7 linked regions of the Homo sapiens genome follow. The protein of the gene in region 5 interacts with the protein of the main gene of each other region in a pairwise test. Each region holds a gene or a part of one and is shown on either strand. Other genes may lie near its edges.

The links.
Region 1: the proteins of HUNK (region 5) and ZNF343 interact in a two-hybrid assay, tested with the Homo sapiens proteins (one large-scale study listed by BioGRID and IntAct).
Region 2: the proteins of HUNK (region 5) and AARS1 interact in a two-hybrid assay, tested with the Homo sapiens proteins (one large-scale study listed by BioGRID and IntAct).
Region 3: the proteins of HUNK (region 5) and ALAD interact in a two-hybrid assay, tested with the Homo sapiens proteins (one large-scale study listed by BioGRID and IntAct).
Region 4: the proteins of HUNK (region 5) and ASPA interact in a two-hybrid assay, tested with the Homo sapiens proteins (one large-scale study listed by BioGRID and IntAct).
Region 6: the proteins of HUNK (region 5) and LRSAM1 interact in a two-hybrid assay, tested with the Homo sapiens proteins (one large-scale study listed by BioGRID and IntAct).
Region 7: the proteins of HUNK (region 5) and ZNF292 interact in a two-hybrid assay, tested with the Homo sapiens proteins (one large-scale study listed by BioGRID and IntAct).

The regions. Positions count from the first base shown.
Region 1 is NC_000020.11:2,491,327-2,496,237, reverse strand, and holds part of ZNF343 (zinc finger protein 343), read left to right. Parts: intron 1-713; exon of another isoform or gene 714-823; intron 824-2,193; 5' UTR 2,194-2,342; coding exon 2,343-2,460; exon of another isoform or gene 2,461-2,487; coding exon of another isoform or gene 2,488-2,545; intron 2,546-2,660; coding exon 2,661-2,719; intron 2,720-3,412; coding exon 3,413-3,539; intron 3,540-4,153; coding exon of another isoform or gene 4,154-4,206; exon of another isoform or gene 4,207-4,389; intron 4,390-4,911. UniProt on the Homo sapiens protein: May be involved in transcriptional regulation.
Region 2 is NC_000016.10:70,268,439-70,273,349, reverse strand, and holds part of AARS1 (alanine--tRNA ligase, cytoplasmic), read left to right. Parts: intron 1-1,377; coding exon 1,378-1,569; intron 1,570-3,009; coding exon 3,010-3,154; intron 3,155-3,586; coding exon 3,587-3,732; intron 3,733-4,911. UniProt on the Homo sapiens protein: Catalyzes the attachment of alanine to tRNA(Ala) in a two-step reaction: alanine is first activated by ATP to form Ala-AMP and then transferred to the acceptor end of tRNA(Ala). Also edits incorrectly charged tRNA(Ala) via its editing domain.
Region 3 is NC_000009.12:113,384,656-113,388,803, forward strand, and holds the end of ALAD (delta-aminolevulinic acid dehydratase), read right to left. Parts: intron 3,707-4,148; coding exon 3,645-3,706; 3' UTR 1,657-3,644; downstream 1-1,656.
Region 4 is NC_000017.11:3,478,136-3,483,046, reverse strand, and holds part of ASPA (aspartoacylase), read right to left. Parts: intron 1,445-4,911; coding exon 1,249-1,444; intron 1-1,248.
Region 5 is NC_000021.9:32,001,506-32,005,461, reverse strand, and holds the end of HUNK (hormonally up-regulated neu tumor-associated kinase), read right to left. Parts: 3' UTR 1,398-3,956; downstream 1-1,397.
Region 6 is NC_000009.12:127,500,010-127,503,509, forward strand, and holds the end of LRSAM1 (E3 ubiquitin-protein ligase LRSAM1), read left to right. Parts: intron 1-1,000; coding exon 1,001-1,134; intron 1,135-2,764; coding exon 2,765-2,890; 3' UTR 2,891-3,490; downstream 3,491-3,500.
Region 7 is NC_000006.12:87,259,532-87,264,442, reverse strand, and holds part of ZNF292 (zinc finger protein 292), read right to left. Parts: coding exon 2,642-4,911; 3' UTR 1-2,641. UniProt on the Homo sapiens protein: May be involved in transcriptional regulation.

The sequences.
Region 1 (4,911 bases), on a different chromosome or scaffold from region 5:
ATCTCAAGTAATCACCTTTAAAAGGCTTTCCTTAAATACTCGATTTAAAATTGCAACTCCTTCAGTCTCTGCCACTGGATCCTTCTGGTGCCCTCAGTACTTATCTCCGTCTGATATCTTGTGTCTTTTCTGAGGTATATATTTTTTTTGTCCATCTCCTTGCCCCTAAACCCCACTAAAATGGCAGCTACACGAGTGCTGGTATTTTTTCTGTTGCATTTGTGGCAGTGTCCCAAATGTTGGAATACTGCATTTAGTAGCCGGGCATGGTGGCTCACGCCTGTAATCCCAGCGCGTTGGGAGGCCGAGGCAGACGGATCACAAAGTCAGGAGTTCGAGACCAGCCTGGCCAACATGGTGAAACCCCATCTCTACTAAAAATTCAAACAATTAGCTGGATGTGGTGGCAGGTGCCTGTAATCCCAGGTACTTGGGAGGCTGAGGCAAAAGAATCACTTGAACCTGGGAGGCAGAGGTTGCGGTGAGCCAAGATTGCACCACTGCACTCCAGCCTGGGCAACAGGGTGAGACTCTGTCTCAAAAAAAAAAAAAAGAAAAAAGAAAAAAAAAAGTCTGCACTTAGTACAGATCTTGCTTTATAACTGTTAGCTACAGATACTAGTGTTACTAGGAGAAAGGCTTTGTCAGCTTCAGCTACGTTATACTGCAGGTACTATAGGTTGGCTTTAGCTTTGTACCATGACTTTTTACAGTAGAACCACAGTCCCTCTTCGGACATGCTGTTCTCAGAACAAAAGAAATGGTGGAATTATGCAATGCTTAGAAATGGCATCGTCGCTTTCACTCACATTCATTTTCCAAGGCAAGTTACAAGGTCAAGCCTGATGTCTGGGACAGGGAAGTACCATCCTTTTATAGGGCAACAAATAATTGGGAACGATGATAAAATCTACCACAAAGGCCTCTTTTATTCTAATCACTAGAATTATATTAGCAAAAAGACTGAGAAGCATTTCATCTTACAAGAAGCTTCACAGTTTAGTAAAGACAGTCACGTAAATAGAGAAATTGCAATATGGTATGATGGCCAGGTTGGACAGAAGAGGGAGTGGTCATCTCTACCTATGGTGTTGAGGGATGAATTACAAGAGCTGCTTAGAGACCCCAGCTAGTCTCAGAAGGGTACTAGGCAACAATAGGCCTGTAGCCATTTGGGCTGAAATCCTGGACAGCGTCTGAGGAGCTTTTGAAGGTGGCATAGCTCCTAATACCACCTGCCTTCTTTGGGACCACATCAGTGTAGGACTTTGACTTGGGCCCATCAGGATACACAAATGCACATCTGTGGTAAGGTCATGTGGTAGACATGCATAGCAATGGAAGCTAGGAGGTTATCTCTTCAGAGTAATTGTGAGAACTGGAGCTCTCCCTTAACTAAGAAGGACTGAGTTTTGATCTCCTAAACTCCTCACAATACAGGGACATAGGGATTTTTTTTTTTTTTCTTGAGACAGGGTCTTACTCCTGCCGTCCAGGCTAGAGTGCAATGGCATGATCTCAGCTCACTGCAGCCTCGACTTCCCGAGGTCAGGTGATCCTCCCACCTCAGCCTGCTGAGTAGCTGGGACTACAGGCGCACACCACCATGCCCAGCTGATTTTTGTATTTTTTGTAGAGACGGCATTTCGCTATGTTGCCCAGACTGGTCTTGAGCTCCTGAGCTTAAGTGATTAGCTTGCCGTGGCCTCCCAAAGTACTGAGATTACAGGTGTGAACCACTGTGCCCATCCAAGACACAAGGAACTGAATATAGATGGAACCTTGGGTTGGGGCAGGGGAATCAGAAGCTGAGTTCTGCACGCCCCAGTTGGTCTACAGGAAACAGTCAGAGGCTCTTTCTCCACAGGCATTATGCTATATTCTGTCTTCTCTCTGACTCAGGCTTCAGGTAGTAGCAGAGACTGATCCAAAACATAGAGTTTGAATCTGAGGTGCAGAGGCAGAAGAAGTAAAGTTTGAGAGCTAAGGGAGAGTGGCAGAACACAAGCAGGAGGGCCTAGAAATGAAGGTAGAGTGAATGAAGGTAGAAAATCCAGGGATCCCATGTAGATGGAGACTCCGTGTTTGTTGAATGAGGAGGGTGTGAGAGGACAGGATCCCTGTTGAAGAGGCATAGGCCTAGGGCCCACAATAAAAGCCCCAGCAATAGCAAATTGCTTCTTCATCCCACAGGTCCTGGCTGCAGGGAAACAAGCTGGGCTTTTTATAATTAAGGTTGGAAGAAGTCACCACAGGCAGCAGAACTCCATCTTGAGATGAAATAACATCTACCTGGACCTCTGGCAGAATTTCAAGGCACACACTGGGCTGACTCTGGCGCCATGATGTTGCCTTATCCTTCAGCACTGGGAGATCAATACTGGGAAGAGATTTTGCTTCCAAAGAATGGGGAAAATGTAGAGACTATGAAGAAATTGACCCAAAATCATAAAGCGAAAGGTGAGAATTGTTGAGGGAGCCGGAGGGATGAAGAGGAAGCCAAGGCTCCAGGTTCACCTGAAAATGCTTCAGAGGTCACCTCTGAGTTAAGTGACTACTTCCTTCATCCTAAGGCTCAGAAGAGCTGCTCAGGGAGCGTCATGGTGGGGGGTGGGGGGTGGGGGGGTCTGGTTTCTCATAGCTTCTTTTTCTTTCCCTAGGCTTGCCTTCTAATGATACTGACTGCCCCCAGAAAAAGGAGGGAAAGGCCCAAATAGTGGTGAGTTGGGGTTACATTTTTTTTTTTTCCTGAAGTGCTGGCTCATTTTCCAGAGAATAGACATATATTCTCTTTCTTGGGAAAGGAAAAGGCGGTCAACATCTGGGTAGATGAGTGAAGCATTAGGCTTTCTTGAAAAAAGTTGTCAAAGCACATAGCAAAGACAGGGATTTTACAGATCCCATTTAGTAACCTGAGCTTTTAAAAAATGCTCATTCCAGACCCCATCTGTTCACTCCCATTTTTCTCTGTAATCCAAGTTTTCTTCCATTCTCTCCTCTAAATCTTTACCACTCCCTACTGCCCAGCACAAGCCCCAAGTCCATGATGCTTTTGTTCCTTCTGCAGCCCATTCTCTGCTGTTTCATCTCTGAATTCCTTCATTATGAATCCTCAAAGTCACTGTCTTAAACACAGCCTGAGGTTTACAAATTAATTCACAAATCATTTCTCCGGTGAAATCATATATGTCAAGGGCCTAGAATGTGTTCTGTGCTCAGTTATGCTCCTCACAGGTTTTAACAGAAAGCCAGGCAGACAGTAGTGCTCAGAAGAACTTCATATGGAGAACCATATATTCTGACGAATTACATCAACTTGCATATCCAGGCTCTCCAGGGTCACCAGCTGTGCTCCACACACAGGGAAGATTGATGGTGGCTTGCTATACATTAATTTACTGGTTGTTTGTAGGTACCAGTTACATTCAGGGATGTGACTGTGATCTTCACAGAAGCAGAATGGAAGAGACTGAGTCCAGAGCAGAGGAATCTATACAAAGAAGTGATGCTGGAGAATTACAGGAATCTTCTCTCATTGGGTAAGGCTGTGTTCTTTCCTTTCCTTCATTAATTCAGTAGAGATTTACTGATCACCTAATATGTACCACAAAAAAATGTTCTAGATACTTACAACACATTAGTAAACAAAATCGTAATCCCTGCCTCCATGGGGCTTACTTTCTAGTGTAAGGAGACAGACAACAAACAAAAAGCCTCATATACAGGGATATTATAATATGGTATGTTAAAAGGTGATAAGTGCAACATAGTAAAAAATAATGAAATAAGGCAGGATAAAGGGGTATTGGGTGTGATAGGGTGGCTGGCTGAAGTTTAAAACTGGGTATTTGAAATCAGTGAAGAAGTAATATTTGTCTAAAGACATAATGTGGTGAGGAGGTTAGAACTGTAGGTATCTAGTGTAAGAGCATTTCAGGTGAAGGGAATTATTGACACGAAGACCTTAATGAAGGGATGTACCTGCCCAGTATATGAAGCTGCAAGGAGGCAAGCAAGGCTGGGGGCATGGTTTGCAAGGGGGAGAGATGCAGCTCTGTGACATAAGTTAAAATTAAGAGTCAAGTTTATTGTGGTTTGGGGGTTTCATAAACTATGTTTTTTTCTTTTTCATTTGTTTACAAACCTAAACGAGGTCAGGAGATCGAGACCATCCTGGCCAACATAGTGAAATCCCATCTCTACTAAAAATACAAAAATTAGCTGAGCATGGTGGCATGTGCCTGTAATCTCAGCTACTTGGGAGCCTGAGGCAGGAGAATCACTTGAACCAGGGAGTCAGAGGTTGCAGTGAGCCGAGATTGTGCCGTTGCACTCCAGCCTGGTGACAGAGTGAAACTCAGTCTGAAAAAATAAAAAAAAATAAAAAAATATTTAAATCTGGGTTGATAAATGTTATCAATTGCAACATAACTCTAGATCAGGGGTTGGCCAACTTTTTCTGTAAAGGGCCAAACAATAACTGTTTTTACAGGTGATAAGCCCTCTGTAACAACCCTTAACTTGCCATTGAGTTGCAGCCATAAACAGTATGTGAACGGATGAGCATTGATATGTTCCAATAAAACTTTCTTTATAGACACTGAAATTTGAATTTAATATAATGTTTATGTATCATGAAATATTACTACTCTTTTTACTTTTTTCTAGCCATTTAAAAATGTAAAAACCATTCTTAGCTTGTAGGTGATACAAAAACAGAGGACTGGATTTAGCTTGTGGGTAGTCATTTTCCACTCCTTGTTCTAGATCAGTGCTGTCTAGTAGAAATATAATGTGAGCCACATAGGTAAGTTTAAATTTCCTAGTAACCACATTTTTACAAGTATAACTACAGGTGAAATCAACTTTAAGACTATATATATTATTTAATCCAATATATTAAAATATCAT
Region 2 (4,911 bases), on a different chromosome or scaffold from region 5:
TGAACTTGGTCGAATTTGTGAAGTGCTGCATCAAGGAGAATCTGAACATGGGGTGTGTGCCCTCTGTAGACAGCTGGGCTGTCCATGATGTGTTTGCCTCATTTTCTTGTTCCTTTTACTTAATTCTTTCATCCTTTAGTGCATAGCTTTTTACTATACTTGGAAACAGGGCTGCTTCTCTTTTTTTAATTACTTTTACTCTAGATATATTATTCCAACCCAACTTCCCCTTTTACTTGATCTAAAACTCCTATTCGGTTGACTCTGTAGTCTAAGTGTAGTTGGAATTTTGGGTAGTGACACCTGTAAAAATTAAATATTAATCTTGACGCTGGTTTTTAAAATCCTCTTTTACCTTGACTTCATGTACTGTATATCTACACTTTAAAAGTGTAGCTTTTAAAAGATAAGCAAGCACAATCTTTTGTGTGTGTGTGTGTGTGTGTGTGTGTGTGTGTGTCACCCAGGCTGGAGTGCAGTGGCATGATCACAGCTCACTGCAGCCTCAACTTCCTGGGCTCAAGTGATCCTCTCCCGAGTAGCTGGGACTACAGGTATGCATCACCCCCCCAGCTAATTTTTTTTTGTATTTTTTAGAGAGTCGGGGTTTCGCAATGTTGCCCAGGCTGGTCTCGAACTCCTGAGCTCAAGCAATGCGCGTGGCCAGCGTTTTCATTATTATGTGTTCCTTTCTAGGCCTTACTCATGTCCTTGTGTATTTTCATTGAGTTTCGAGCATATCATGTGTATATTTTGTACTGTCTTCTATTGTAGGCACTCTTGAGAAGAGTCATGTGCTGTTTCTTTAGCGGGTTTTTTTTTTTTTTTTTTTTTTTTTTTTTTGAGATGGAGTTTTGCTCTCGTTGCCCAGGCTGGAGTGCAATGGCGCGATCCCGGCTCATCGCAGCCTCTGCCTCCTGGGTTCTAGTGATTCTCCTGCCTCAGCCTCCCGAGTAGCTGGGATTACAGGCATGCGCCACCACACCCAGCTAATTTTTTGTATTTTTAGTAGAGACAAGGTTTCTCCATGTTGATGAGGCTGGTCTCAAACTCCCAACCTCAGGTGATCCGCCCGCCTCGGCCTCCCAAAATGCTGGGATTACAGGCATGAGCCACCACGCCCAGCTTCTTTAGCAGGTTTAATGTGCAGGCTTAGCATTAGTACTTGCTGAAGGTTGGAACTTCTTCATTAAAAATTCTAAGAATTTTTTTTTTTTCTTTTTTGAGACAGAGTCTCGCTCTGTTGTCTAGGCTGGAGTGCAGTAACATGAGCCACTGTGCCCGGCCAATCCTAAGAATTTCTTTTGCGGTGGTTGCAAGTCTGGGCAGAACTCTTGTCAGGGGCTGTAACTGGACTTATCTTTACTCCTTTGTCAGGCTGGATGACACCAAAATCCTCCCAGGCAACATGAAGGATAACTTCTGGGAGATGGGTGACACGGGCCCCTGTGGTCCTTGCAGTGAGATCCACTACGACCGGATTGGTGGTCGGGACGCCGCACATCTTGTCAACCAGGACGACCCTAATGTGCTGGAGATCTGGAACCTTGTGTTCATCCAGTATAACAGGTAGCCTTGGGTTCCTACTCCATTCCTTTCCTTGAGCTGAGCAGGGGAGGAGGAACTCGGAGCTGTGTAGCTCTCTTCTCAGCTAAAAGCTCATTTCTTTATTTCTCAGATTACCTGTCTGATCTCTGGAACAAGGATGGGCCTATTCTTTCATGAACTAAACCTTATCGCACATAATAGCTTCTTGCGAGCTATTCCTATAATGTCATGCTTGCTGTACTTCGGGCTGCTGTTTTTTTTTTTTGTTTTTTTGAGACAGAGTTTTCCTCTTGTTACCCAGGCTGGAGTGCAATGGTGTGATCTTGGCTTACTGCAACATCTGTGCCCTGGGTTCAAGCGATTCTCCTGCCTCAGCCTTCCGAGTAGCTGGGATTACAGGCATGTGCCACCACGCCCGGCTAATTTTGTATTTTTAGTGGAGACGGGGTTTCTCCATGTTGGTCAGGCTGGTCTCGAACTCCCAACCTCAGGTGATCCGCCCGCCTCAGCCTCCCAAAGTGCTGGGATTATAGGTGTGAGCCACCGTGCCAGAACTGGACTGCTGTTTTAAAGCCTATTTCCTTGAAGCTTGCCTCAGTTTTGTTTTTGTTTTTGTTTTTGTTTTTGGAGATGGAGTCTTGCTCTGTCACCCAGGCTGGAGTGCAGTGGCAAGATCTCAGCCCACTGCAACCTTTGCCTGCTGGGTTCAAGCGATTCTCCTGCCTCAGCCTGCTGAGTTCTCCTGCCTCAGCCTCCTGAGTAGCTAGGGTTACAGGTGCATGCCACCATGCCAGGCTAATTTTTAAAATATTTTTGGCAGGGATGGGGTTTCATCATGTTGGCCAGGCTGGTCTCGAACTCCTGACCTCAAGTGATTCCCCCGCCTCGGCCTCCCAAAATGCTGGTATTACAGGCGTGAGCCACCATGCCCAGTCTTTTTCTTTTCTTTTTTTTTTTTTTTTTTGAGATGGAGTTTTGCTCTTGTTGCCCAGGCTGTAGTGCAATGGTGAAATCTCAGCTCACCACAACCTCCGCCTCCTGGGTTCAAGCGATTCTCCTGCTTCAGCCTCCCGAGTAGCTGGGATTACAGGCATGTGCCACCATGCTCGGCTAATTTTGTATTTTTAGTAGAGATGGGGTTTCTTCATGTTGAGCAGGCTGGTCTCGAGCTCCTGACCTCAGATGGTCCACCACCTCGGCCTCCCAAAGTGCTGGGATTACAGGCATGAGCCACTGCGCCTGGCCTTTCCTCACTCTTAAATGAACCCCAGAGTTCATTTAAGAATGAACTCTTCCTTTCTCCTTCCTTTCTCCCTCCACTTCCCTCTTCCCACCAAACCGGGCAAATGGCAGATGGTCACAGCCTGCAAACTGTTCTGTAAATGAATTTTAACCAGCAGGGACTGGAGAGGTGGCAGCTTGAGTCTCTGCTTCAACCTCCTCTTCTTCTGGATCATACAGGGAAGCTGATGGCATTCTGAAACCTCTTCCCAAGAAAAGCATTGACACAGGGATGGGCCTGGAACGACTGGTATCTGTGCTGCAGAATAAGATGTCCAACTATGACACTGACCTTTTTGTCCCTTACTTTGAAGCCATTCAGAAGGTACTGGTGCTATTGCAAACATTGTAAACTTCTGTGGAGTTTTCCAGGCTGTACTCTTAACAGTGCTGTCAAAGAAAAAATGACCATATGCTTTGCCAGCCAAGGGTACCCATTTCCATCTGCCTACTTCATTGTTAATAATGTGAGGCTCCACAAATTGGTGTTCTAAATGTCTTAAGAACCTAATTAAATAGCTGACTACAAAAAAAAAATAATAATGTGAGGCTCTAGACCTGAGACAGTATAATTTTTGAGTGTAGGGGCTGGCTGGAGTCTCTCTACTTCCCCAATGTCACGTTCTTGGGGTTATAGGATCTGGCAAGACCGGCATCCTTTCTGCTAATGCTCCTCAATCCTCCAGGAACCTCCTTGGGCAAGGTAGCGCCAGAAAGTCTGCTTCCTAAAGGGCTGCCTCCTGATTCTTATCTATAGGGCACAGGTGCCCGACCATACACTGGGAAAGTTGGTGCTGAGGATGCCGATGGGATTGACATGGCCTACCGGGTGCTGGCTGACCACGCTCGGACCATCACTGTGGCACTGGCTGATGGTGGCCGGCCTGACAACACAGGGCGTGGGTAAGTATGCTGCACACTGGGTGGTGTTTGGAGCGGCACCACGTGTGCTATGTGTGACTCTTTATGAAACTTTTCTTTGTGTGTGAGATTGAGTGTTGCTCTGTTGCCCAGGCTGGAGTACAATGGCGTGATCTTGCCTCACTGCAACCTCTGCCTGCTGGGTTCAAGTGATTCTGCCTCAGCCTCCCACGTAGCTGGGATTATAGGTGCACACCACCACGCCTGGCTAATTTTTGTACTTTTAGTAGAGACGGTTGTTTTTTTTTTTTTTTTTTTTTTTTTTTTTTTTTTTTTTCTGAGACAGAATTTTGCTTTTGTTGCCCGGGCTAGAGTGCAATGGCCCGATCTTGGCTCACCGCAACCTCCACCTCCTGAGTTCAAGCAATTCTTTTCCCTCAGCCTCCCGAATAGATGGGATTACAGGCATGAGCCACCATGCCTAGTTTTGTATTTTTAGTAAAGATGGGGTTCCTTCCATGTTGGTCAGGCTGGTCTCAAACTCCCAACCTCAGGTGATCCGCCCGCCTCGGCCTCCCACAGTGCTGGGATTACAGGCGTGAGCCACCGTGCCCGGCCAGAGGTGGGGTTTTGCCATGTTGGCCAGGCTGGTCTCGAACTCCTGACCTCAGATGATCCACCTGCTACGACCTCCCAAAGTGATGGGATTACAGGTGTGAGCCACCATGCCCGGCCTCTTTATGAAACTTAAAGCCATCTTTCGTTATTGTTTCCTTGTCTTGGGCAGGTGGAAGAATCCCCCACCCCTTTTTTAAGGGATGAAGGGAGTTTCAGCTAGTGTCACAGAGTTGCCACTATATTAAATCTCTGCTGCTGAGTACAGATGATAAGGATTGTATTCAAAGTTGCCTGATAGGAGATTGGCAGGGGCAGGGTGAGGGTAGGTATTGACCAGCCCTGGGAATCTCTCTTACTGACAGGCAGGACCTGGGATCACAGGCATCAAGTACACATCTGGTCTGTCCATCTTTCCTCCCTCTATGGGTAACTGAATGTGAAAGGAAAACAAACCAGCGTTTACCCTAGGGAAGCCTTGACGGGTATTTGTGGGTATGTTACTGAGTCTTGTGCTAAAATTAATGACCTTGGGGAATGCGAAAGAAGCAGGCTTAGGATAAAAGAAAGTTCCTGAAAGAGGTGTTGCTTTGGGTAGGATTCCAA
Region 3 (4,148 bases), on a different chromosome or scaffold from region 5:
ACTGGGCATGACCATGTGACTAATTTGAGACAAGGGTGTGTAGACAGAAATGATGTGTGCAACTTTTGGGTCATGACTTTATAAAGAAGGGTCATGCCCTCCATTTGCTCTTCTCTTCCTGCTGGCTGGAAAGAGGACCTGATGATGGGAACTGGCCCAGCCATTTTTTTGTTTTGTTTTGGTTTTGAGATAGGGTCTCACGCTGTTTCCCATGCTAGAGTGCAGGGGCGCAATCACCACTCACTGCATCCTTGACCTCCTGGGCTCGCTCCTGCCTCAGCCTCCTGAGTAACTGGGACTACAGGCATGCACGACCACACCCAGATAATTCTGTATTTTTTGTACAGACGTGGTTTCCTCATGTTGCCTAAGCTAGTCTCAAACTCCTGGACTTGAGTGATCCACCCATCTCAGCCTCCCAAAGTGTTGGGATTACAGGTGTGAGCCACTGTGCCCAGCACCAGCCATCTTTGTTCATGAGATGGAGGCCAAGATGTGTTGATGATGACAGAACAAGGCAAGAGCTGAGACCCCTCACAACATATTGCTGACATATCAGCCCTGGATTGCTTAGAAGTAAATTTTCATCTCAAGCTATCATTATTTTGGCTTTTGTTATATCCACTGAACCTGAATCCTGATTAATACAGAGTGACTGGAGAATGACTTTTTTTTTTTTTTTTTTTTGAGACAGAGTCTGACTCTCTGTTGCCCAGGATGGGGTGCAGTGGCATGATCTCGGCTCACTGCAACCTCTGCGTCCTGTGTTCTAGTGATTCCTCTGCCTCAGCCTCCCAAGCAGGTGGGACTACAGGCGCCTGCCACCATGCCCGGCTAATTTTTTGTAGTTTTAGTCTAGATGGGGTTTTGCCACGTTGGCCAGGCTGGTCTTGAACTCCTGACCTCAAGTGATCCGCCTGCCTTGGTCTCCCAAAGTGCTGGGATTACAGGTGTGAGCCACCACGCCCAGCTCCAAGAGTGACTTTAGATTGGGTGTTGGGTCAGGTTTCTCAGAGGAAGGGATGCTTTGAGCTGAGATCTTAACAAGAGAGACAGCCATATAGATTTAGGGGAAAAGCATTCCAAGCCAAGGAGGCCACTGGTGCAAAAGCTCAGTCCAAGACAGCGTTCTGTGTAATGAGGCCTACCTGGTCAATTGTGGCGCCATCTCCCATCCCATTGTTTACAGTGACTGAGCCAAGAGTGGACCATGTGGCCTGAACAGGCCCAATCAGAGACCTCCAGAGATTTGCTATGTGAGTGATGGGACAGGAAGGCTCTTTCTCTGGGATTACAAATCTTAACGACTATTTAAGCCTAGAATTATTGAGGATCATGTTGCTGGCAAGTGGCAAAAACCCACCTGAGTATAAAGCTGGGGCAAACACAGACGAGAGTTAGAAAGGGACAGAGACCTCCATGGGGTTTGACCCTGGGCCCAACCACACCTGTCCTTATCTCAATCCAGTTATGAAAACCAATCATGTCCTTCTTTGCTATTGAACTGGATTTCCATCACTTGCAACCAAGTAGGTGCCTGGTCTCCTTGGTCTCCCCGTATAACTGGGGCTAATTGCAGATGGTCCCCGAACTGTGATCATTCAATTCACAATTTTTGACTTTACAACAGTATGAAACAAGACATTCAGTAGAAACTGTACTTCAAATATTGAATTTTTATTCAAAATTCTTTACAACTTTATTACAATATAGATTTTGTGTTGGATAGTTTTGCCCACTGTAGGCTAATGTAAGTGTTCTGAGCATGTTTAAGGCAGGCTAGGCTAAGCTATGATGTTTGGTAGGTTAGGTATATTAAATACATTTTTGACTTATGATCATATTTTCAACTTATGATCATATTTTCAACTTATGATGGGTTTATCAGGATGCAAACCCATCACATAAATGGAGGGGTGTCTATAAAACATTGTTAGACCTATAATTTTGCTGTTGATTATTGGGAGGTGGTATGGCACAGTGGTTAGGGGCAGAGGCCTTGGAGTTGGACTACATGGGTTCAAATCCCAGCTTGGCTGTTTTCTGTGCAGTTCTAATCCAGTTCTGCCACAAACTTGTTGAGTGGCCTTAGGTGAGTCACATAAGCACTCTAGATATAGCTTCCTTATTGCAAAATGTCTCAAGCTAAGTTTAGTATTCTCCCTCCACCCCGACCCTGCTTCTGTTCCTCTTCCAGGCTGCCCCATCTCAGTAAATGGCCCATCAGCCACCCAGAAGGTCAAGCCAGATTCATCCTTCACATCGAATCTACCTTCTAAACACATCCACAATCCATTCCCCTTTCTCCATCCCCACTGTCCCCGCTCCAGTCCATGCCATCAAGACTTTTCATTTGCACTTTGCCGCAGAGCTGTTAAAATACTTTTACAAACTACAAATTTGATTGAGTCACTCTGAAAAGGTGAATGTGGCCCTTGACCTCTGCATGGTTTGGTCCTGGTCTGTCTCTCTCCACTCAGTTCAGGCCATCCTCTCAGTGCTCCAGACAAGCTAGCCTTGCATTCCTCCAGCTAGAAGGAGCCCCAGGGCCTTTGCACAACTCCTCCCTCTCCCTGGAATGCTCTTCCCCAATTGTCTTAGCTTGATGGCTCACCCTTCAGGTCTAGGCTCAAATGTCAGTCCTTCAGGGAAGTATTTTCTGATCCTTCAAAGAGGTCAGGTCCTGGTGACCTCCTTCAGAGCACCTGTCACCACATCACTGGTGCATGTCTGCCTCCTTCCCAACTACTGTTTCAAGAGAGGCCCCTTCCCTGTTGTTGTCTCAGACCCCTTCTTTCCTTCAAAGCACTTATCACAATTTGTAACTGCTTTATTTCTTTGTTTTCTTCTTAGCTGTCTCCCCAATTCTCTTTGTATAATTTCTATGAAGAGATAAGCTGAGGTCTGTCCTGCTGTATTCCCAGGACCCAGCACTGAACCTAGGAACAGAGCAGAGATTCTCAAAAAGTATCTCCTGAATAAAAAGTGTTTGTGGTGGTGGCACCTCTAGCAGTCAGGAACTCCCTCTTTGCCTCTGAGTTTTGATCCTCAGGCAGTATTTATGCTGGTTAATGAGTAATTCTTCTCTGGGTTTATGGTTCAGAGTAGAATAGGAGACCTCAGGCAGCCTGGCAACCTCTGGCCTCGTGGGAAATGCCTTCCAGTGGAATTGCGGCAAATTTCAACTCTAACCCAGGGATATCGATCTAGGCCTCATTCCCACACCCAGCTCTGCTGCCAGAAGCGTTCCAAGGCTTCTCAGGCCCCAAGATCCCACTGCTCTCTTCTTCCCCTAATGCTCCAAGACCCTCTCCCAGCCAGGCCCCAAAGGCTGTGCCCCCGACTCCAGGTTGCTTTCAAGCTGAAGCCACACCAGAGGAAAGAGCTGAGGGTGGCAAAGGTGGGCCTCACGGCTGACCCAGGGGAGGGGCGGGGAAGCTTGGGAGAGCTCATAGGATGCAGCTGCGAGTTACAAGAGTTAGCATGCTGGCAAAACCACCCAGGGCTGCTGGGCCCCGCTAGCATGTGAGCAGGAAGAGGGCATGAGGGCACAGTTCTAAAAGCAGCATTTACTTTGGTTTTCACTTGTCTGAGGCCCCGGGAACGTTTTAAAGTTCTAGTTCTTGGGCCTGGCACTGTCTCCATCATTCCTCCTTCAGCCACTGCAGCAGCTGCGGTGTGTAGTAGGTGATGATGATGTCAGCACCTGTGTTGGGAGAGATGCAGAAAGTTGCTGGGGGGACGCTGATCAGCTCTGAGCACACCTTCTGCGATGGGAAGGCCAGGCGGGGAAGAAGGCTACCATGAAGAAGCACAGCCTGTGGGCACACCACATGAGACGGAGCCCAGCTTTGGGAAACTCTATTTCTTGGGCAAGTCATTTCCTCTTTTGGGGCCTCAGTTTACCAAAGAATAAAATGCACAGTGAAGGAAATAGGTAAGAGGCAAGTTCCTTCCCATGCTGGTGTGCAATTCTAACAAAATGAGTCCCCTTTATGGAGTGATATTACTTCATTTAATCCTCAGGACAACCACGCACCAGGTATCTTATCCCCAGTTATCCAGTTATGGGTGAGGACACTGAGGTTCAGAGAAGTGGCTTGCCCACGTTCTCACAACCAAAAATGAAGGGCTCTGCTTGCTTCACC
Region 4 (4,911 bases), on a different chromosome or scaffold from region 5:
GCCTCTTGGTTTGGATAACAAAGTGTCAGCAATTCTGCTTCCATATCTGGCAACCAAAGCATTCCGCTCTCTCTTCAATAGGCAATGAAGAATTGGGGTGGGGGGAGGGGGGAGGGATAGCATTAGGAGATATACCTAATGCTAAATGACGAGTTAATGGGTGCGGCACACCAACATGGCACATGTATACATATGTAACAAACCTGCACATGGTGCACATGTACCCTAAAACTTAAAGTATAATAGTAATAAAATTTAAAAAAAATTAAAAAAAAAAAGAATCGCTACATTATGATCTCCTACCAGGACCACTACCCAGTTACTGTCCAAAACTGAAGGGAAACAAAAATAATAATCTTTACTATAGGCCAGGTATGAGGCTAAATGTTTTAAATACTTTATGTCATTTAAGGCTTTGAGTACCCTTATGGGTAAGTGTTGTTTGTTATGACACCAATTTTATAAAATGAAGGAGGCAAGGTTTTGGGAATGGTGTGTTTTGTCTAAGGTTAGTGAAGGAGAAAGTCAGGATCTGAGCACAGGCCACACTCTTTCCTCTCAATCATCCTTGCTCTCAGGAAGGAAGGCTATCTAGTACACAGAAATAAGCATACAGTTCCTTATGTGTGTTTCTGGTTGGTTGCTATTTTCTAGCAAATTTTCTCTGAGATTTCTGAGCCTTAAAATGATTATGAAGTACTGAAAGATTAGACGTATTCTGGGGTGTCTAAATCAAATGGGGACGAGGGCAGGACTAAAGGGAGGCAATCTTTTTATCACTGGGCTTTAGTCTACGTTAAAGGACTATTTCTTAAGTTTCCTAAAACCTTGTAATTGAGATCCCATACCATTTAAAGTTTTAATATTAATTTTACTTGGTTTTAACAAATTGACCATACCATTTAAACTTTTAATATTAATTTTACTTGGTTTTAACAAATACCCCACCATCTGGTGGCTGTCTGGATAAAACGTGTAATTTTATAGACACAAGAATCCACAAGTGTTTTATTACTTTATTAATTGTGTTTATTATTTTACTTATTTCCTCTCTTTTTCTCCTTCCTCTCACCACTGCCTCTGTGTTCTGGTAGCACCCTTTCCCCCCAACCACCAAGCCTGGCTATGGAATAAACCCCATTTCTCTTGCACCTTCCCTCATAACTGTTTTCTGATTGTCTCACATCCATAATTGACTTAAAAGTACAAGTCCTTTGCTAACTTATAAATTAATAACATTAACATTACCTTAATGTAATGAAACATCTGAATTAAAAAGTTATTCCTGGAATCCTCAAGAATAAGAGTGCACCCCATGTTAGAGGTGGTGTTGTGAAGGTCAAAAATAATGTCATAGGAATCTTCACTGTCTTTTGGACCAAATAAATGATTTATTTCTTGAGCCCTTCTCACTTCATATGGCAAATCTTCTGACATTTTTTTGCTGTTATAAGCAGAAAGAAAAAGATGAACAACATCTGTGCCTGAGATAATATAAACATATAATAAGAACACAGTGTAAAAAGAACCAGTCGCCAAATCTTTAATATGAAAAATCTGTGTGGTAAGTAAAAACTTACCTGAAATGTTTATATATGAAAACTTACATTCTTTTTCTTCATTTGATTCCATATAACTAATGTTGCATTGGCATGCTTGCGAAGTAATACGTGCATTTATGTGGCTGGTCATGAATAGGACATATCAAACAGAATTTATCATTTGATTTCAATCTTGAACGCAACATATCCATTAATTTAATGAACAGTTTCTTAGTAGTTATGGTACACTGGGTTATTTATTATGGGACTAGACCATCAAATGCATCTTTTTTTCCCCCACTTTAGCTAATTCTAGTGCACAAATATAGTCACTTAGGGGCTCACATAATCTAATTAGAGATCATTTTAATTTTTAATTTTTTGAGACAGGATTCTGCTCTGTTGCCCAGGCTGGAGTGCAGTGGCCCAATTATGGATCACTGTACCCTCAAACTCCTGGGCTCAAGCAATCTTCCCATCTCAGCCTCCTGAGTAGCTGCTGAAACTACAGGTGCGTGCCACCATGCCCAGCTAATCTTCTTATCTTTTGTGGAGATACAGTCTTGCTCTGTTGCCCAGGCTGGTCTTGAACTAAAACTGCCTTTGCAAAAATTATAACTGAGACAATTATTACAATGAAAGAGATCTAACCTGACTCCATCTTGCTTCTAATCTCCAAGCTATCCTTGTTCATGCCTGGGTGTAAACTGAACTAACTTTGGGAGGAACTTACAGCTTAACTTTGAAACAAAGATGATAACAGCCCTTTCCCAAAACAAGCCCCCTTCCTACCTGGGGACTAGACTGCCTTTGCAGGACTAACAAATTAGCCACAAGATGAGAAATTATGGTTTAGGAGTCATGCAGCTGGAGGGCCGCAAGATTCTGAACCTCCTGAAATTGCTCCTGGGGATAACATCACTATTGTAAAACCTAAGATCAGGGCTTGAGATATTTTGTAAACCCTGAGTTGACAGATCAGCTGGCACCACCCAGATGGATAAACTGGCTTATCTGGTCTCGTGGTCCCCACGTAGGAACTGATTCAGCGCAAGAGGACAGCTCCAACTCCCTATGATTTTACCTTCAATCTGATCAATCAGCACTCCCGACTCACTGGCCCCCTACCCACCAAATTATCCTTAAAAATTCCAGTGTCTGAATTTTCGGGGAGACTGATTTGAGTAATAATAAAACTCTGGCCTTCTGTACAGCCGGCTCTGTGTGAATTAAACTCTTTATTGCAGTTCCCTTGTCTTGATAAATCAGCTCTGTCTGGGCAGCGGATGAGGAGAACTTGCTGGGTGGTTACAGAAGTCTTGGCCTCAGGCAATCCTCCTGCCTTGGCCTCCCAAAGTGCTGGAATTACAAGTATGAGCAGCCACACCTGGCCTAATTAGAGATTCTTAATTGAGGTCCAGGAACCACTAGAGGTCCAGGGACAGAGTTTTCAGAGTCTAACCTCTCCAAAAAGGCCACAAGTTTGCAGGTACAGATATATGTATTTTTTTTCTGGCACAAGGGCCAGTAGTTTTTCTTCCATTCTCAAATGGGCCTCTACCCTCTCCCCACTTCCCACAATGGTTAAGATACATTTTTTTTCTAGATATAATAATGTTTTTCATTTACTTTTCCTCATTAAACCGTTCAACCACATTTTCCTAAAATTCCATCTATTTGTATTCCTTGGTTATTTTTGCTAGTATCTTCAAGGGACCTACTGTGTACAATGGGCTAATTCCTGCCTGGAATGAGATCAGGAAGGTGGAGTAGTTATTTTGTGACTTTGAAGCAAAAACCATGAGGACAAAGCCGGCATCTTGAGATAGTGCACTGGGAAGGTAGAAGGGACCACGTCGAGTCGGTGCAGGGGGAAGGTGGAAAGGGCCACGTTGAGATGGTGCAGTGGGAAGGTGGAAGGGGCCATGTTGAGACAGTGCTGTGGGAAGGTAGAAGGAGCCTGTGGCATTGATGATATCATGTGGCCGCTCCATCAGCCCTGGACAGCCTACTTCTGGACTTATTATTTGTGAACAAGAAACCCTTATTTGTTTAAACCACTATTCTTAGGTTCCTATTGTATGCAAACCAAGCCTAATGGATATTTATACATTTTAAAAGTTAATTCATGAAATAACCCCCTGAGGTCGCGCCCGACAATTTTGGTTCTATATCATTCTTCCGCATTTGAGTAAATGGTGCTAGTATCTACCCAGTTGCTCAGAGTCAAGTCTGGAAGTTTTCAAAAAGATGGACACTTTTGAGTTCTCATGCCTGCAGTTGAGCTCCCATTGGAAGAGTCCCAAGGGATGAAGAATAGGGAAGAGTGAGATTCTGAAGGGCATTAGCCATACTAAGTTGATTAAATCTATTCTGGATACATTTTTAAAGAATTTTCAGCAGGGGAGAGACATGATAAGATTTGCATATTAGGATGATTCCTAGAGGTATCAGATGGAAAATAGATGACAGGAAGGGTCAGAGCAAGTCTGGATGCAGAGAGACCCTTTAGGAGGCTATTCTAACTGTCCACAGAGGAAATCAACTAAGGTAGTAAAACTGGAGAGGAAGGCTGGATTTGTGAAGTACTTGCAAGGAATAATTGGGAGGACTTAGTGACCCACTAGACGTGGGAGACAAAGGACTGGGAAGGTTCTAGGGTGATTTTCACAGGGGACTTGGTGGATAATGATGCCACCACTGAGATGAGGAATATAGGAAAATGAATAAATTTGGGAGAGGCAGGATGGGAGAAGTTAATTAGTTTATCTATTTTATAATTTTTCAACCACGCTGGGAACAGTCTAGTCTCTGAACAGTGTTAACAGTAAGGAGCAGAAAGTGAATTTAAGTGAAAAGACTGTGCTCACTGAAATGCATACTACTGGGTGCTCATAAACTCACCCCAGTCCATTTCACACCTATTTGGGAAGTTAATATGCCGACTAAAAGTTATCCTTCAACAAATTCTTACTTGTAATATAGAAGTTAGTTAACAGCTCTCTTAGGTCAATAGATAAGCATGAATTGTGTTGACATAACCTCAGTCATGAAGATAAAGCATTTCTCAAATTAAAATTTATGCTAGTAAAAATATGATTTGATACAAACAGGATGACTGCAGTATAATTGCCCTGAAAAACATCTATTCCATAAAGTGAGGCATGTTTCTATTAAGAGTAGTGTCCATGTTTTGATCTGTGTTGAGACTAAACCTAAGGAGTGATCTAACTCAAATTAGAGTTGATCAGAAAACAAGCACATAGAACAGTGGCTAGTTGTGCCTGTGCATATCTTATATATATATATATTTTTTTTTTTGAGACGGAGTCTCGCTCTGTCACCCAGGCTGGAGTGCAGTGGCACCATC
Region 5 (3,956 bases):
CACCTGACCTCATGATCCGCCCACCTCAGCCTCTCAAAGTGCTGGGATTACAGGCATGAGCCACCACGCCCAGCCCAGACCTCACATTTTTATAAGGGCACTTGTCAGATTTGATTAGGTTCCTCCCTAAAGGCTTCATTTTAACTTACTCACCTCTTTAAATGCCCTATCTCTAAGTAGTCACATTCTGAGGTACTGGGGCTGAGGGTTTCAACATATGAATTTGTGGAGGAAAGAATTCAGCCCAAAACACTCTCCTTAAATATTAACATTTACCAATGCTAATTCTTTTATTTTAAAAAAGTAACTCTTTACTAAGAGGTGCTATAATTGTGTGACAATGGGAAAAGGCTAGTCCAGTTTTGGGGTACCTTTAAATGGTAGGCATCTCGGCCAGGCACGGTGGCTCATGCCTGTAATCCTGGAACTTTGGGAGTCCAAGGCGGGCATATCACTTGAGGTCAGGAGTCCAAGACCGGCCTGGCCAACACGGTGAAACCCTCGTCTCTACTAAAAATACAAACATTAGCTGGGCATGGTGGCATGTGCCTATAGTCTCAGCTACTCAGGAGGCTGAGGCACAAGAATCGCTTGAACCCAGGAGGTGGAGGTTGCAGTGAACCGAGATTGCGCCACTGCATTCCAGCCTGGGTGACAGAGGGAGACTCCATCTCAAAACAAAAGCAAAAACAAAAACAAAGAACAAATAAATGGCAGGCAGCTGTACCTTCCCTAAGATGGGAGAAACATTAGCTGCATCCCAAGTAGCCCTATGCTCCTGTATTTCCCAGCCTCTTGCTCACAGACAAGGCAGTGTGACCAGTTCCAGTCAATGGGCTGTGGGAGAAGTGATGAGTCCCCTCATAGAATGTTTAAGGGCTGGTGGAAAACTCTCCAGCCGTGCCTTCCTGTGCTGGAGCAGCCAAAGACGTTTCATTTTGAGGGGACACAGCCACAAGTTGGATGTAGCCTGGATCCCTGAGTCACCATATGGAAGACAGCCGTTTTGTGGTCAGCCCAGCCTCATAAAAATATTTTAAGAAATAAACCTTTATTGGGCAAGTCACAGAGATTTGGAATTAATTTGTGATCATAGCAAAGCCTAATCTTCTAGCATACTGGTTGCCAGAGGAGGTGAGCACTGAACACTGATGAAGGAGTCAGGGGAAGGCATTCTCATCTCAGATCTGCCAAGAACTTCACTGCCCTACTTTCGGCAAGAAGACTTGTTCCCAATATAGGCTTGCAATTTGCCCTTTCCAGCTGGCTATGGTAACAAGACTAGAAAGAACACATTTTTAAAAAAAATTATAGAGTTTAAATGTAAACCAAAGCCTTTGCTTTCAAAATTGCTAATAGCCCATCTTCCAAGTAGGAAATACAAAGAGCTGAGGCCCTGAAGTCAGACCCATTTATTTTTTTCACCTGTAAATGATACAGCTTCCTGTGCCATCTTTAAGTTTTAAACCACTCAACTCCAATTGATCCTCAAGTTTGCTCCACATAAAGCTATTCTATCCTTCCAAAATTGGTTGCCCCAAATGCCTCATTATTGGAACACCACCAGCTCAGATGTGGATACATGTGGAGGGGGACTGCAAATCCTGAAATGCTCCTCACCTTCTCTTCCAAAGCCTCCTCAGCTTTCTCCCCCAACCTCAGTCCCTTAGTGCCCACAGACGTCAACTCCTAGAGATAACTGTGTGTCACAAAAACATGTCCACAGAGAAGAAGTACAAATATATATCCTATTTGTCTTTGCAACCAGATGTCTGGAAAGCTCCCTTAACAGAAAAGCTGCCACAAATAATATACTCATTTACTACTCAGGAAATGCACTCCCTTCATTGAAAAGTGATGACATGAAATTGAACCAACTCCCAGTACCGCTCTGAATTATTCTTACTGTGCCTGTAGCTCACAGAAGACCCCACAAAGAAAATAAATACACTAACCAACAGGCTTCCAGACTCCCCCAAAAGATAGCAGTTTTGCATTCTTTCTGAATTTGCTTCAGTGTATGATATGGCTCTATAGGAAATGTTTTATTGATTTAATCTAGTAAAACCCAATAGCCTCTTAATACCTAAAGTAGATAACAAGGCTATCCAGGGGTTTGCTGCTTACTTGGGAAGTCAACTGAGAAAGACAGAGTTCCCAAAGAAAGCTGTCTTTCCCCAGCTTCAAGAGTGGATGGGACAAACAGCATAAGGTTCAGGAAGCTGCACAGTTTTGAAAAGGACTTAAAAATGCAAGACCTAGTCCCTGCAGGAACTTCAGAAATACCTGTTGTGATGACGGCTTGATCTGTTGTTGACATCCCCCTCTGACCATGGCAGCCACTCTCTGATTTCTCTGTGTTCTTTGAGGGAGAAACTCTGCTCCAGACCAGCTCAAATGCCAGCTCATCTGGGGACTCTGGGGTGTCCTTAAACCATCTGGGTCCCTAGTTTTCCCTTCTTCAGAAAGGCTGGGGCTGAGCCAGAGAATCTTAGGTCCTTTTCTATTCTAAAGTGTTGGGATTCTTACAAGAAAACATTGTCATCAAAACTAGATACTTGTTCTTTTCCCCGGAATCCGACTACTGGGGCTTTGCACAGTGAACAGTGAGCTTCTCCACTTTCTAGCTATGTCACCCTCTAAGGCTTCGTCCCCTCACTTCCCAGGGGAAACAAGGTGGTATATATGAAAAACGTTTTGTGAACAGTTATGAAGGAAGCAGTAACTGGGACAATTTCAAGAGGTCATCTAGATCCCACCCTCCCATTCCATCCCATCATCCCTCTTCCCCTATCCATGACCAAGGCCTCCTACAAGGACAAAATCTAGAAGTCACGTTCATAACTGCCATTCTTTGTGTGCCATTTTCAGAGTCTCCAAGGAAGATCCTAATATCCCCAAATGAAAAAGGTTGATTCTTCTTGAACTGCCACCTGCAGTGTGTATGTCAGAAAGACTTTTGTAGGCACACCTATTGCAGGTAAAATAAGGCAGGGAAACTGGCCCAGAAAATGCCCCCCAATGCAATTCCCGCTTGTTTCCAGTCAGATGCTAGGTCAAGAGCTTTACATAAGGCCAGGCACAGTGGCTCACGCCTGTAATCTCAGCACTTTGGGAGGCCAAGGTGGGCAGATCGTTGGAGCCCAGGAGTTTGAGATCAGCCTGAGCAACATGGCGAAACCCCATTTCTACAAAATACAAAAAAAATTAGCTAGGCATTGTGGTGCACAACTGTAGTCCCAGCTACTTGGGAGGCTGAGATGGGAGGATCACTTGAATCTGGAGAGGTTGAGGCTGCAGTGAACTGTGATTGTGCCACTGCACTCCAGCCTGGGTGACAGAGCAAGACCCTGTCTCAAAAAAAGAAAAAGAACTTCACATAAAAGATGGTACCTGTACTATTATTTGCAACGTACTTAGTTGTTTTAAGATTTATCAGCAAATAAAGAAGCAGTCGTAGTGAGGGAAAAGTGTATTTCACAGTCATTACAAAAGTACATATATCTAATAATGGTGACATAAATATAGTCCTTACTTATGACCAAATCATACAATTAAAATGGACATTTCCTCCTAGACTTCACACAATGACAGTCCAGTCAATTTCTGTCAGTAACTACAGGGTGACTGGAATCACAGGCACAGACTGAGGAAGACAGTCACGGTCGAACAGACAACATGCTTCGGACTTACCAAAGGGAGAGTCGAGCTTTCCATATAAATATAATAAAATAATAAAGAATCTAACATTTCTCCTTTCACTCGGTTTCATAGATTTGTCAGGTGCTCACACACACACACACACACAAATACAGCTGATCCCCTTTCATCACTCCCCCTCACCTCTCACTGGGTTTAGAATAAACCTGAGTTCAGAGTCCAGGTCGCCAATGGCAACGCGGTCAGTTAGCGGCACATGTGCAGCTGTTCTTGAAGCCTGCCAGGAATAAGAAGCA
Region 6 (3,500 bases), on a different chromosome or scaffold from region 5:
GGAAGGGAACGAGGGATAGAGTCAAGGAAGTGGGTGGCTCACGTTGCATGATAGAAAAAGAGACTTAGCAGCCGGGCACGTTGGCTCACGCCTGTAATCCCAGCGCTCTGGGAGGCTGAGGTGGGCAGATCACCTGAAGTCAAAAGCTTGAGACCAGCCTGGCCAACATGGTGAAACCCCACCTCTACTAAAGATACAAAAATTAGCCTGTCGTGATAGTGGGCACCTGTAATCCCAGCTACTCGGGAGGCTGAGGAAGGAGAATTGCTTGAACCTGGGAGGCAGAGGTTGCAGTGAGCCGAGATCGCGCCACTGAACTCCAGCCTGGGTGACAGAGCGAGACTGTCTCAAAAAAAAAAAAAAAAAGAGACTTAGCATTTTGTAAGGGCTGCTTCTGATGTCTTAGCAGGGGATGCTGACTCCAGGGCAGAGCAGCCAGCATGCTGGGGACTCTGTGGGGCTGGGGGCAGGGGAACAGCCTTGCGGGGGGCCTCTCATTCTGCTCCCCTGGGTCACCTGATGGGCAGCAGCCCATCCTGTCTCCTGGGCAACCAGGTGGAGAAGCCAAGAGCTGGCCCTTCACTGAGAGCTCCTGCCCCAGGGATCTGCAGCTGCATCACCAGATGGCCACATGGCCCTGGGTTGAGTGACTCCCCGTCTCTGAGCCTCAAATGTCTCATCTCTGAAAGTGCCAAGCCCTACTTGCAGGGTGGCTATGAAGCGTCCCGGGGACATTAGAGATCAGAGGACCCACTTAACAAGCGCTGCGGCCATCCCTGCAGAGAGAGACTTCACTCCCATTCTGCAGATGGGAAATGAGGCTCAGAGAAGAGAAGAAGAGAGTGTGTGGCAAGGAGAGCACTTCCCTCAGATCTGAGAGCAGAGGCTCCCCCACCCTCCAGCTCACTCACCATGGGGATGGGCAGGGCCACAATGAGCCCCCAGGGGTTAGGGTCAGCGGAGATGACCCTGGCTCAGTCTGTCTGTCTGGTCCCCACAGAGCTGAAACCACCAATGGGTGAGGTCGTCACCCCTACGGCCCCCCAGGAGCCTCCTGAGTCTGTGAGGCCATCCGCTCCCCCTGCAGAGCTGGAGGTGCAGGCCTCAGAGTGTGTCGTGTGCCTGGAACGGGAGGTAAGTCCGGGGCCCTCCCCACCCGCCTGCCCTGCCTGTGGCCACCCTCCTCAAATTCTGCAGGTACAGGGTTGTCTCTGAACGTGTTTTCTCCAGTTCTCTAAGTAGACTGTGCTCATCTAGAAAGAAGGCAGGAAATAAAGATGACCCCTGGTCCCATGACCCAAATATGAGCTGCGCTCACATCATTTTCCGGACCTTTTTCTTTTTGTTCCTACTTAATAAATACATTAGGAAAAAATTTCCCAAATCATGAAATATCAACAACATGATTTACCCTGCAGAGGCTTTAGAAAATCATCTTTTGGCCAGGCATGGTGGCTCACGCCTGTAATCCCAGCACTTTTGGAGGCCAAGGCAGGTGGATCACCTGAGGTCAGGAGTTTGAGGCCAGCCTGGCCAACATGGTAAAACTCCATCTCTACTAAAAATACAAAAATCAGCCAGGCGTGGTGGTGGGCGCCTGTAAGCCCAGATACTTGGGAGGCTGAGGCAGGAGAATCGCTTGAACCCGGGAGGCAGAGATTGCAGTGAGCCAAGATCCCACCACTGCACTCCAGCCTGGCAGACAGATCGAGATTCCATCTCAAAAAAAAGAAAAAATCATCTTTTAAAAATTCATTAACACTTACTCTAAAAATTACACAGAGCAGTGAATGAAATACAAATCCTCCTTTGCCTCCACTGAGGGATCCTACTTAGAAAAGCAGCCATGTTTGCAGTTTGATGATTCCAGGGTCTCCCGTTGACCTGACTCATGCCATGATATGGATGGACCTATTGGTTCCAAATATAATCCCTGTTCTGGGGCCCTTGGCATTCCAGACAGCTTTGAGCGGAGCTTGGATCAGTTCCTGAAAGCAGGAGATGCTGAGGCAAAGTGTGGTCCTGAGTCAGTGGCTGCTGCTCCGGGTTGGGATTGTTTGTAGACTGAGGAGTTCAGGGCCTGGGCAAGTGCATCAACAAGAAAGAAGCCTGAACACCCTGCGTGCCCTCCGGCAGGGGCCGGCGGAATAGGCCTCCGTCGCCTGTCCAGAGCGCAGGAATATAATCCCCAGTTTTATTTAAGAAAGAATCAGTTGGGGCATTTATATGGGTATTTATATTTTTTACAAACTATAGAGAAATAGACAGCAAACTGCTAACAGAAGGCCTAGGTTACCTGTTTCGGCCGTGCCTGTTCTGTTTCTGTGGTGGTCAAATGCCCGAAGGCCCCACTATCAGGCGTTTATGGTAAAGATGCTAAAGAATAATGAAGGGGGCCGGCATGGTGGCTCACGCCTGTAATCCCAGCACTTTGGGAGGCCGAGGCGGGCAGATCACTTGGGGTCAGGAGTTCGAGACTAGCCTGACCAACATGGTGAAACCCCATCTCTACTAAAAATACAAAAAATTTAGCCAGGTATGGTGGTGCACGCCTGTAGTCCCAGCTACTTGGGAGGCTGAGGCAGGAGAATCACTTAAACCCGGGAGGCTGAGGTTGCAGTGAGCTGAGATCCCACCACTGCACTCCAGCCTGGGCAACAGAGTGAGACTCTGTCTCAAAAAAAAAAAAAAAAAAAAAAAAGACGGGCCTGGGACTCCTGGAACCCGGTAGGGCCAGCCACATGCTCCCGCTCTCCCTCCCCAGGCCCAGATGATCTTCCTCAACTGTGGCCACGTCTGCTGCTGCCAGCAGTGCTGCCAGCCACTGCGCACCTGCCCGCTGTGCCGCCAGGACATCGCCCAGCGCCTCCGCATCTACCACAGCAGCTGAGTGCTGCCCGCCCACCTGGGCCTGGTCCTAGCCCTGCCTCGGCCACTGTGAGCCCCGGGCTCCTGCTCAGCCTTGTGCCAGCCAGACTCGTATGAGGCTCCCCCCTGCCCTGGGCCCCTTCCCCACTGCCCAGGAGCCCCCATCCTAAGCTCCAAGCATGTCTGGGCCAGGCAGAGGTGCTCCTCATCCATGACACCACCAGTCTGAATGGTCCTGGGGGCTGGGGCTGGAGAGGCCGCTGCACCACCACCCGAGCCTGGGAGCCAGCGTCCCAGCCTAATCACGGATCTGCTGCCTCCCAGCTGTCTTGACTGAAGGCCACCGCCCCTGCAGGAGCTTGGGTCCTCATCTGGGGGCCATGCACAGGCCCGTCCCACCCTGCATGTGGGAAGGGAGCAGGAGGGCCTGGCTGGGTGAGGGGAGGCCTTCCTGGGAAGGCGTGTGGTGCAGGCCTGTGCTCACAGTGGCACCAGCAACCCTGGGTCTCCCTCTCTGCTGCTCCCCAGAACCCCGGGGCCCTCCTGCTCTCCACAACTGTCCCTCCTTACCCCATGTAGCTCGATCCGAAGCAGGAGTGTCAATAAACCTGTCTTCAGTGCGCTTCTGGCCT
Region 7 (4,911 bases), on a different chromosome or scaffold from region 5:
ATTTGCCTTAAAAATATGTCTAGCCCTTTAAAATAATAATGTACCTATGTTAAATTTAACACCGTTGAAAATTTCAAAAACTGTTACATTTCACTTAAGGTGATGTATTTTGAATAATACAATTCTGACCTGTAATATGCAAACTTTGCGGGTTCAGAAGAGGAAAAACTCCTACTTTTTAGTGATGAAACTTTAGCAAATTTAGGCTGTAGAAGATATCTCAAGACAATAGGCTGGGGAAAAGTATACCATGAAAAAAATATATTTTATGATTTTTTAATACTTAGACATTACATTCCGTATCAAAATTTACCAACATGCTATTCTATAAATTCATGTCTTTTTACCATAGTTTGATTTTTTTTGTTTCATGCTAAAAAGCCCACTCTCATAATTACCTTTAGTATACATTACCTGGAATATAAAAATTTCATTAAATGTTGGCAAACTCTTCCCCATGACATGTAAAACAATTAGAAATGTCTAGTTATAAATTTTCTTAAGCTAATGAGCAAAAGAAAAGCCCCAATACATTGGCATTTTCACTTAACAGTGGCTCATAGTTACAATGATCAGAAATAAACCTACTTGCTACTGTGCTATATAGGGCAGTTTTGCCAAGTGCCCACCTTTAAGAGCTAGGTCAATTTCTAAGAAAACTGTATGGAAACATTCAGTTGTTAACAAAAATTTAATATTAAAATTACTCAGTTATTTAAATTATTGTTAATTTAGGAAAAAGAAAACCCATGTATTAATCACCCATAAAATAACTTTTATTTTAATAAATAACAGTGGGCTCACCAAAGGGCAGGGATTTTAACGTGTCAGGTTTTATGCTTATTGGTAGTAAGTCTTAAACAGGTGAAATGAACTATTCAATAAAACCCAAAAGGCCCTAAAAATAAAATACTTTAATAATAAAAATTAAAAAGAAATTTCCAAAAGAAAATAGTTCACTCCTTGACCATGCTTATTTATTCAGAGTACCAGCGATTTCAGTAAGTGCTTCATTTTTCCTGCAAATCTGATGTTGCACAGGGAATGTACACATTTTCATACCATCACAATATCATCAATATCTCAGGCCAATAATATTGTGAATGCAACTGTTTTATAACAAACACAAAATAAAAAAAAACAATGTTACTATTTACGGCAAACAGAAACAAAAGTAAATATTGCAAAGATGTTTTCTTATGTTTCTACTACTGATTTTAGTTGGACTTTAAATGAAGGTCATCAACTCTCCTGGAATAACCTCTACCTCTCGCTGTGAATCCACAGTATAAATATGGTGAATAAAGCTAAACTGTAAGAGCTAACTATATACTGAATAACCAAAATAATTATAACTAATACTGTTCTTGAAGACCAATCTAATGAAAAAAGTATCATTAGATATGGTGAGAAATACAGACAAATCTGTACAATCTAACATCTATAAACAGTAAAATCAAAACATCCAACTTCCTTATAGAAAGTGTTTTATCTATGTAATTATAAATGTTAAGGACTCTTGTATTTTATAAACACAAGATGGGCTCACTTTGATGATATCAATTTTAAGATTTATAAAAATGTTTAAAAAAATCTTTCCACAAAACTTTATACAGTTTAAAGCTATACACCAATCTATAAATCTCAGAAAATGGAAAACAAAACAAAACAAAAAATCTTTATAAGATCACATGTATAAAACAAGAAATGAAATGTGATTTTATTTAAGGCAATACTGGGCTACTTCACAAATCACCACCTCAAATATTTACACTGCTCCACACTACTAGTTTTCTATCACATTCACAAAGGATTTTTTTTTAATACCAAATGTTTAAAATCTTCAATGTAGTAAATTCTTTATTCACATTTCCATTGTATTTCATGGACTCATAGTAACTATATCCAATTAGAAGCAATGAAAAAAAAAAACTGTAGCTATAGGAAACTGCTAGAGAATCTGCTTTAATTTCACATGAATACCACCCCAAAATCCTGGATGGCAAATTTACAAAGCAGAGCAAAGTGTTGATATAATGTGCCTATTTTGTGAAAAGTAATCTTGATATCATCTTGTAAATAAATGTTTCATGTAAAAATCAATGAACTATGGCAGAGTTTCTGGTTTTAGTTCAAAAAGTTCTTAATTTAAAACAATAAAAGAACAATTTAAAAAACTTGATCGCTTAGTTAAAAATTAAAATTCCAAATATAAATGTGTCATTTAATAGTTTAGACTTACAGACTGCTGGTGGCAGCACATGATTTACAATAATAAATATATACAAAAAAGGTATCTACAAATAAAGAGTACTGTTATACATGAGCAGTGACCTGGTGAAACATACCAATCACACAGATAATTGTTTAGTTCATGAAAAGGGCAACTGGGTGATAGAAATTTGAGGTTTAGCTCACTATTTACAATAACTGAAGTACTGATTCTGTTCCTCAAGTCCCATAGGGATAAAAAAAAGTTTTACATGACAAATGTCATGTTTTTTTTTTCTTTTTTGTTTTTGGCCAGGTTAATTCATGTCAACAACAAAAAAATATAATGAAAGTTTCACAATTCTAGCATGCTTGATGGCTTCCTATTTAAAATAAAATGGTAAATGATGTATTTATACTACATTAATTATCAGTACTGACCTCTGCCTGTGGCTTTACCTATACTGATATCTTTCATAACAGACATATCTGGATCATTTGAATGTACTTCAAGTTTTTTCAGACTGACGGTAGGTTTCATTTCCTGAAGTTGCTTTAAGACAAGCTCAGTGCAATCTTTAAGATTCTTGTCTAAAACAATTTTTACATTATCACTGCACTGAAGCTGTGATGGATTGGCAAACTGTACAAACGTTTCGCTTTCTTTACAAGGACATACATGATTTCCACTAGTCACAGCAGTCTTATCAATATTTTTTCTTGAATTTGAATGGGATCCTTTTTTGTTTCCAGTATTCGGATGGTCTTTGTCAGTATTTTTCTTCTGCTTCACTGCAGACTCCTCAAGAAACTTCAGAAATGATACTTCAAATCCCATTGGCTTAAAAGAGCTCCAGTCAAAAGATGCAGGATGCTCCTCAATGGTTTGAATGGCAACAGCAGTTTCTTCTTCTTTACGCACGCTACTTAACTCAGCTGCTGATGCTGGTTCAGCTTTTTCAACTTTCCTTTTTTTATTTTGTGAGACATTTTTTTCCTTATTAACTCTCTTCAAATTACTTGCTTTTTGTCTTTCTGACTGGCAGAGGTTATCTTCCTGAAAATCATTACTTACATTTGAAGAAGTATTAGCTTGGGTCTCTACACTTGTGCTATCTTCATTTATTAATTTTGTAATAAACAATTCTGTTAGTTCATCCATTTCATCTTTTTCATTTTTTTCAACTTCCTTTTGTGAAACTGTAGCTGTTGTTCTTGAATTATCATTGCTCTCTGATACACACGTGTCAGAATCTTTCACATCATTCTTAGCACCTTCTTGCTCAGACGTTTCCTTTACTTGTGAGTTGCAACACCGTTTGAATACAATAAGAAGATTTCGGTGTTGTGATGTAAATGCCTTAGATAATTTATGGCACTTATAATGTCTAATTATATTGCTTTCACTTGTAACAACTGAAGTACATCCCTTTATCATACATGGATACTGGGTTACAAATCTGCTTGTACACTCAGACAGGGCATCATTTCTAGCCTTTATAGAATATACATGCTTCCCACGTTTCAGAGAATAAGGCTTATTTTCTTCAATCTGCACAATCTTTGCATTCTTGTTTTCTAAATTATTTTTTTTCTTTCGTTTGGTCTTGGGCATTTTTATTCCTTCCTTTCCACATCTGCTGTGCTTGGTCCCCCGATGTTTAGACTTTGATTTTTCTTGGTTTGCCTTGCTTGACATATTTTCCTGGCCTGGTGTTAATCTTCTTGGACGAATCAAATGAGCCTTATGTTTGTCATTATGCTTATTAAAAATGTGTCGGAGGAGATTCGACCGGGTTGCATATATACGGTCACAGCCTTCACAATCACATTTGTATACACCATCTTCTTCTGTTTTACTTGCCCTTAGTCCAATCCCGTGGTCTGCCTCTAGATGAACAACATAGTTCAAATATGTAGTAAATGAAGATTTACACTCTAACTGGTCACATGGAAACTTCCCAACATCCACTGAAGCAGTCATACTTTCAATTTCTTCAGGAGTCATTTCATGAAGTTTCATGTAGTGTTGTATTAGGCCAGTAATTGCTTGGAAAATTCGAGAACAGTCACTTACCTGACATCGAAATTCTTTCAAAGTTTGTTTAGTTTCAGTTTCTTCACTTTCTTTACCAGCTTCACTTTCCTCTTCGACCTCTGCTGAAAATGCAGGTAGATCTGATTTGTGTACAGCCTGGTAATGGAGAATCAAGTTTTGCTGTATCGTAAAGGCAGCAAAGCATCCCTGGTGAACACATCGATAAGGTCTGTAAGGACTGTATCTTGTTGGAAACTCAAGGGATTGGGAAACTGGCTTCTTTCGTTTTTTCTCCTCCTTTTCTTTTTTATGCCTCCTAATCTTCCGTCCTTTGGTTTGTGTGTTTGTGAGTGCATTTGTATTACATTGTTCTGAAGTAACTGTAATCACTTGTAAAGAACTTTCTGTTTTGTCAGGACTTTTTTTTTCTACAAGTTGTTTTTCTGGGATCACTGCTACATTACTGTGGGTATTTTGGGTCTCTGCTCTCAATTCTAAAGCAGGCTGAGATTCCTTTTTATTTTCCTCTGTCATAGCTAGCTGTTTTTTCACTTGTGTACTTCGTGAGGCCGGCACATTTTCACTCTGAGATTTTCTTCCATAAGGCCTTTTAATTTTTAACTTTACCATTTCTTCAGTTGTAAAATGATGCACCAACTGAC